2 linked regions of the Homo sapiens genome follow. The protein of the gene in region 2 purifies or fractionates together with the protein of the main gene of each other region. This does not show direct contact. Each region holds a gene or a part of one and is shown on either strand. Other genes may lie near its edges.

The links.
Region 1: the proteins of DYNC1I1 (region 2) and AMBRA1 purify together in Homo sapiens (affinity purification with western blotting, with the first as the bait; one study listed by BioGRID). This does not show direct contact.

Annotation. Positions count from the first base shown.
Region 1 is NC_000011.10:46,398,725-46,402,102, forward strand, and holds part of AMBRA1 (activating molecule in BECN1-regulated autophagy protein 1), read right to left. Parts: intron 1-3,378. UniProt on the Homo sapiens protein: Substrate-recognition component of a DCX (DDB1-CUL4-X-box) E3 ubiquitin-protein ligase complex involved in cell cycle control and autophagy.
Region 2 is NC_000007.14:96,034,535-96,038,357, forward strand, and holds part of DYNC1I1 (cytoplasmic dynein 1 intermediate chain 1), read left to right. Parts: intron 1-1,084; coding exon 1,085-1,218; intron 1,219-3,823. UniProt on the Homo sapiens protein: Acts as one of several non-catalytic accessory components of the cytoplasmic dynein 1 complex that are thought to be involved in linking dynein to cargos and to adapter proteins that regulate dynein function.

The sequences.
Region 1 (3,378 bases), on a different chromosome or scaffold from region 2:
CTCAGCCTCCCAAAGTGTTGGGATTACAGGTGTGAGCCACTGCGCCTGGCCTATTTTATTTATTTTTGAGACAGAGTCTTGCTCTGTCACCCAAGCTGGAGTGCAGTGGTGTGATCTTGGCTCACTGCAACCTCCGCCTCCCGGGTTCAAGCAATTATCCTGCCTCAGCCTCCCAAGTAGCTGGGATTACAGGCATGCACCATCATACCTGGCTCATTTTTGTATTTTTAGTAGAGATGGTGTTTCCCCATGTTGGCCAGGCTGGTTTCGAGCTCCTGACCTCAGGTGATCCACCCTCCTCGGCCTCCCAAAGTGCTAGGATTACAGGCGTGAGCCACCACGCCTGGCCATATTTATTTATTTTTTTGAAATGGAGTTTTGTTCTAGTCGCCCAGGCTGGAGTGCAATGATGCGATCTCAGCTCACTGCAACCTCCACTTCCTGGGTTCAAGCCATTCTTCCGCCTCAGCCTCCGAGTAGCTGGGATTACAGGTGCCCGCCACCACACCCAGCTAATTTTTGTATTTTTAGTAGAGACGGGGTTTCACCATGTTAGCCAGGCCAGTCTCGAACTCCTGACCTCAGGTAATCTGCCTGCCTCAGCCTCCCAAAAGGCTGGGATTATAGGCATGAGCCACCGTGCCCAGCCTTTGTTTTTTGAGATGGAGTTTTGCTCTTGTCACTCAGGCTGAAGTGCAGTGGCACAATCTTGGCTCACTGCAACCTCCACCTCCCAGGTTCAAGCGATTCTCCTGCCTCAGCCTCCTGAGTAGCTGGGATTACAGGCTCCCACCACACCTGGCTAATTTTTTGTATTTTTAGTAGAGATGGGGTTCCACCATGTTGGCCAGGCTGCTCTCGACCTCCTGACTTCAGGCGATCCGCCCACCTAGGCCTCCCAAAGTGTTGGGATTACAGGCGTGAGCCACCGTGCCTGGTCAGAAGCTGAGAGTTTTAACTGTTCCTTGGAAGGGCTGTTTCCTTCTCTTCTTTCCCTTTACCCCCCAGTCTTCACAAGCTATTCCCCAGTTATTGTTCTCCTGGGGCTCAATGCCTGATGCCATATTTCCCGGAAAAGAGTCAACTGACCAGCACAGGACCCAGGTCTAGGGAGGGAGAGAAGGATCTGTCCGCCACTCCCTCTGCAGAAATGCCTGAGCATTCCCTTGTGTGGGAACAGAAAAGACTTCGGCTCAAATCTCAGCTGTCACTTGCTTGCTGGGTGACCTTGAAAAAAATCCCTAACATCTACCTTGCACGGTGCTGGAGAGAGAAAAGGAGCTAACGCACAGCCCAGGCACTTGGTCAACGGTGCCTGTTGTGATTAACTTGGGGTCTGCAGCAGTGGAGCTCTATTGCTGTGGGACCTCCCTTCCAGCTTTCTGCTCAGCTCTTGGTAGGGTGAGAACCAGGCCAAGACCGTGGGCAACTATGATCAAGGCTCTGAGGCTGCGAGGGATGGCTCCACTGAACTGCTGATTTGTCTCCATCAGCTACTGTTTGGAATTTTGCAGTTTTGGGGGTTTTGATGGTGAGTTTTCTTTCCTTTTGGGGTACTTGCCAGCAGCTATTTTTATGAGACTTTCTTTGCTCCCCTAACCCCATCCATCCCCTTCTCTCTGCCTGCCTCATTAGAGTTGGATTTCCAGGCCAGCCAGTTTCACAGCTTGGTGGCATCTAAGGCCCCAAGAGATCTCTCACCCTTCTTGTTGGTACTTGGCAGCCTCATGCTTCTAGTTCTTTCTATAGTTTTTTTTTTTTTTTTTTTTTTTTTTTTTTTTTTTTGAGACCAGGTCTCGCTATGTCACCTAAACTGGAGTGCAATGGTACAAACATGGCTCACTGTAGCTTAGCCTCTTGGGTGCAAGTGATCCACCCACCTCAGCCTCCTGAGTAGTAGGGAGTACAGGCAAGCACCACTCCTGGCTAATTTTTTGTACTTTTTGCAGAGACGGTTTCGCCGTGTTGCCCAGGCTGGTCTTGAACTCCTGGGCTCAAGCAATCCTCCTGCCTTGGCCTCCCAAAATGCTGGGATTACATGGGTGAGTCACTGCGCCCAGCCCCAGTCTTAGACGATCTTCCTCAGCATTATGTCCTCTCTTGCTTTTCTGGACAACCCCTGATAAAGCACTGCCCTCCATCCCTCAAGGTGGCTGCCCTTCCCCACTTCCTCCTGGGACACCCGGCTCCAGCTCCCAGGGCAGAAGGAGAGAAAACCTGAAGGGCTCTCAGAGTACTGGGTCAACCCCATCTTCAGGTTTTAAAGCCTTCTAACAGTGGGGCAGAAGGTAAGAAGAAAAAAGTCAACCTACGGCCTTGGTGCCCACAGAGATTCTACCCTGGGAGCCAAGGGCTGCCTGGGGAGGTCCCCTGGGGCCCTCCCTGTGCTCACTGTAGCCCCAATGCTTTCTCAGAACTCTGTGCACTGAAGCCCTCGCAGCATGGTCTGGGGCGTGCTGTGGCTGGCCTGAGGCCTGCTGGCATTGGAGTGCACTGTGCCAGGCGCTGTGCCTAGTGAATTCTCAGCTCTTTTCGAGACAGAGTCTCGCTCTGTCGCCCAGACTGGAGTGCAGTGACATGATCTCAGCTCACTGCAACCTCCACTTCCCGGGTTCATGCAATTCTCCTGCCTCAGCCTCCCGAGTAGCTGGGACTACAGGCATGTGCCACCATACCCAGCTAATTTTTGTATTTTTAGTAGAGACAGTGTTTCATCATGCTGGCCAGGCTGGTATCAGACTCCTGACCTTGTGATCCACCCACTTGGACCTCCCAAAGTTCTGGGAGGCATGAGCCACCGCACCCAGCTCAGCTCTTCTCAAGTAGATTACCAGGGGCAGAACAGGCTGCCTTGGGGCCCTATGGGTGCTGCTGCAGCCAAGCCCCCAGAGAGCCCCGGATGGGCTTTCCCAGGCTCTGCGGGAGGCCCTGCTGCTGGCACTCAAGTCTGAGCCCACTGCTTGCTTGCCTATGGCTCCAGGCCTGGCCACCCCTCTCTATGGCTATGACTGTGTCCTAACTGGGCTTCTTGCTTCCAGTCTCCTCCCCTTCCGTCTAGTCTCCACACTGTTCCTATTACCATCCTAATTCAGCTCTGCTGACTTGAGCTCTGGTTAAGTCTGCACCCTGTTCAAAACCCAGCAGCTGCAAAAGCCCTCACAGTAGTCAAAACTCCTTAGCTTGACATTTGAGGGCTCTCTGGCCAGACCCTTATCATGCTGCAGACCTTCCTGCCCTGTCCCCCACATTCCTGCAGGTACCCGGCAGCCCTGCTCCCTGCCTGCACAGATGGGCATACACTGTGCACACTGTGCCATGCTCTCGTCCCATCTCCTCTGCCACCCACTTCTCTCTGGTCCCCCAGCTAGAAGGGGATGC
Region 2 (3,823 bases):
CTGGTCTTTCTCTCTCCCAAATGGGTAAAGGGACTTTTCCTTCCTTGCTGCTAATTTTAGTGATGAAGCAGATCATTGGATGATCCAGTTATCTGTATGACATAGTCACAGCATCCTCTCCTTTATCCCAGTTGCTGATGTGCACCCTATGTGTGGATATCACAAACTTTGAACACATCACAGGATCAGAATCAGTCTGTGTTGCTTAGACTGTTAGCTTGCACTTTCAATTTAATGGACTCCTTGGCTGAAATAGTTTATTTGCACAAGAAAGACTAAACTCTCAAGCAACTATAATGATATGATACCTCAGAATGATTTTTTAAAAATTATTTCAGATGCACAAAATAGGCTATTTGATGTAAATAGCCAGAAATACTCAGGGATATTAGTTATAATTGATTATTCTTTTCTGTCATTAAACTTAACTCAGCAGTATATCTTTTAAGATTAGGAATCTTTAATTCTCAATTTTAAAAAATCATATTATAAAATAAAGACTCCCATTTGCTATTTTAAAGACGTATTTAAATATTGTTCTTTTCAGGCTTATAGCCTATTCACCCAATGGCTGCCCTGCATGAAATCTAGTCCCTGTTGAAATCTGGTTTTTATGACCTGAGTGACAACTTTCTGGTTTTAGTCCATGGAGGACACATACTCCTGCTTTGACAAATTTGCTTAGTACATCTGATATTAATACATGTGTATTCTCACAAACAATTGATTTTGAAAATGTTTGTAAATACAAGGGTATTGTGTGTTTTATTAAAGCTTGGAGCTGACAAGTGTAACCATTATTATCTTTAGTTTCTGCACCATTAGTTTCAAAATTCTCACCTGTCATCTTTGCCTGACTTAAGAAGCAGCAGCACATGCTGATGAAATCCAGCCGGCTTGAAACCAGAGATCCACAGAAGCATGAATGTCAGGGGCAGTAAAGCATGGTTTCTGGCACAGCCGGGGTCTTTTGTAACGCTGTGTGAAAAGCAAACACATGATTTAGCCAAATGATTTTTCCGTGCTATCTTTGGCATGGCAAGGAGTTGACAGATGGAAATGTAACCACACCGTGTTTTGGTAGGAGAGCATGGAGCTGGTGTACAATAAGTCCAAGCCTGTCGCTGTTACCGGAATGGCTTTCCCAACGGGAGACGTCAATAACTTCGTGGTTGGCAGTGAGGAAGGTACAGTCTACACGGCTTGTCGTCATGGAAGGTGATTTTTCTGTTTCTTTACTGATGACATGTTCTTCATTTCCGAAAGTCTGTTATCACATTCTGGATTTTAACCACCTTGCATTATGAGAAAGCATCTCTGGAAAAATGGAAAGCACGACTTCAACTCTTCATTATCTTAAAGAGCTGCATCTGCTCTGGTCATTAGCTGTTCATAAGACTGTGGTGGTTCACACTGCCTTGAGGGAAAAAAGCTCGAGCTTCTGAGCCTATCATAACAGACCACTTGCACCTTCCCAGCATCTCCGCATACCTTCAGGGTCTAGCCATGTGCCCATCAGAGATAACAATCCCCAAATATTTCTTATCCCTCCATGCCTCAATGAGTTTGCATACTCAACTTCTTTTACCAGTTCTAGCATTTCTCCCTTTTTGGCCTGGTTAATTCCTCCTCATCATTCAAGAGCCAGCACAGAGATCATTCCATGTGAAACATTTTCTGACTCTTGGGCAAAGAAAACCACTCCCACCTTTAAGTCCCATAGAATTTTCAATTCTCTTATTCATTCACTCTTCCAAGGAATATTTACTAAGAACCTACCATGTGCCAGGCATCATCAAAAGGATACATTAAAGAACAAGACAGACCTAGAGTTCATATTCTAGTTGAGGGTAAAATACTAATAAGCAAATAAATATATAGTTTAGGATGGTAAGTGCAATGGAGAAAATTAAAGTAGAATAAGTGGGATAGGACTATAGGCTGTCAAGTTGACAATTTCATATATTTTCCTTATGCTTCTATAATAGCATTAATCGTATTTTAGTTTATTCATTCATCTGCCATTTTTCTCTTACTACATTATTTCCATTTCATCTTTGATTTCCTGCACAGTACCTAGGACATAGTAAGTGAGGAGCTAAAAATATATATTGGGGATAAAGAAATGATATATAATGTAATCCATCCAATCTAAAGAAGTGCCTTAAAAGCTTTCCTCCCAGTCAGATGGGTCAGAACAGAGTGAGTCACACAAACCACCATGCAGTTCCCAGGTGATAAGAACTCTACCTTAACTGAGAGATTCACAATGCCCCTGGAAAAGAGTTGTCAGTATAAAGTGGAATCCAATAGTTTGGACTAGATTGTAAAATTGCATGCAAAACTTAACAGGTGGCCTCATGTCTTTTGAAAGGGTCACTATGTTCACACTGGTGCTTAATTTGTCTTTTACTTTAGTAGTTCTTATTCCATTGATTTTTTTTCATCTCTTGCACTCATCCGAGGCTATTAAGATTTAATGAAGAACCACAAATTGTTCCAAGTTCATATCCCTGTGTTTTTGTGATTTGTAGAAATGACAAGCATCCATGGCTCAGCTATGTGACTTTTTCCATTCAAACTATACAAGCTGTTATGTTCCTGCTGTTCTGCACGTAGAAACAAGCAGTATTTGTCCCCTCACATGATTCAAAGATGACTTAGGAAGATATGCCTCACAGTCCATTCCCAATGATCCTCCTTCATAAACCCTGGCTAAAACCACACATTAAAGCTTTATCAAAGCATAAAAATATTTGATAAAGTTATTCATTCATAAATATATTTGTTGTATGCCTACTTTGAGCAAAGTGCATTGTTAGGTTCTGCAAGGCCTGCAGACGTCATGTAAACCTGGTTTCTCTCTTCAAAATAACTGATGACGGTGAGAAAGATAAATACACAAATATCTGGAACATGAGTAGAATGTCTTAAGTGGCATGAGAGGCATAGAGAGTATAGTAGGCCAGACCTGGAGTCACAGCTTTATCTATATGCGTATTAGAATCAACATGGCATAGGTTCAGTTAACTTAACCCATGGTTTTACCTAGGTCCTTGATTATCTACGAAGGCTATAGAATACATTCATTGATAATTTCCAGATTTTTTTCATTGCTATAAAGTGAATAACATTTTACATGATGAACATTCTTGTTCTGTGGCTACTGTACTTTCTAAGCACTATCAGAATATGCACTTTGGTTCAAAAGAAGGGTCCCTATGGCACACACCACAAATCTTTTTACAACAAGCTGAATTTTGCTTTACATTGGTCCATCCATCTGAAATATAAAATACAGACCTTAGTAACATTGTAACGTAGCAGGCATTGGCTTTGTAGTCATTCTAAATGGGTCATATAGGTCTATGGGGGAGAAGCAGGGGATTGCTATTTTTCACCTAACATAGAGAAGGTGCAAATCCACTTCCATAAATTAAACAAGGTCCTCATTTTGCACCCTATAAATCCTTTCAGGATGCTGTTAAGAGCAAGTGGAGTCTCACCAGGGGCCACTTCAAAGATCAGTTCCTCGGGTTCATTAGAACAAATTTAAATGATCATGTGTGGAACTGCTCTTAGCAGTTTCACTGGGCATAATTTTTGAGTGCCTGTTACATGGAACACGCACTGCCACACTTTGCTCATGATTCCAAATTTTGCTAAGCACATTGACATTTATTGGTGCTCCAGAGGCCCAAATGTTTTAATAACTGAGCTCGTTTTTATTCTTAGTGACATAATATTAGGATTCTACAATTCCTACATATTTGTCATATTTATAACCTCATGCACATGAATATTTTAAATATAGCATTTTTGG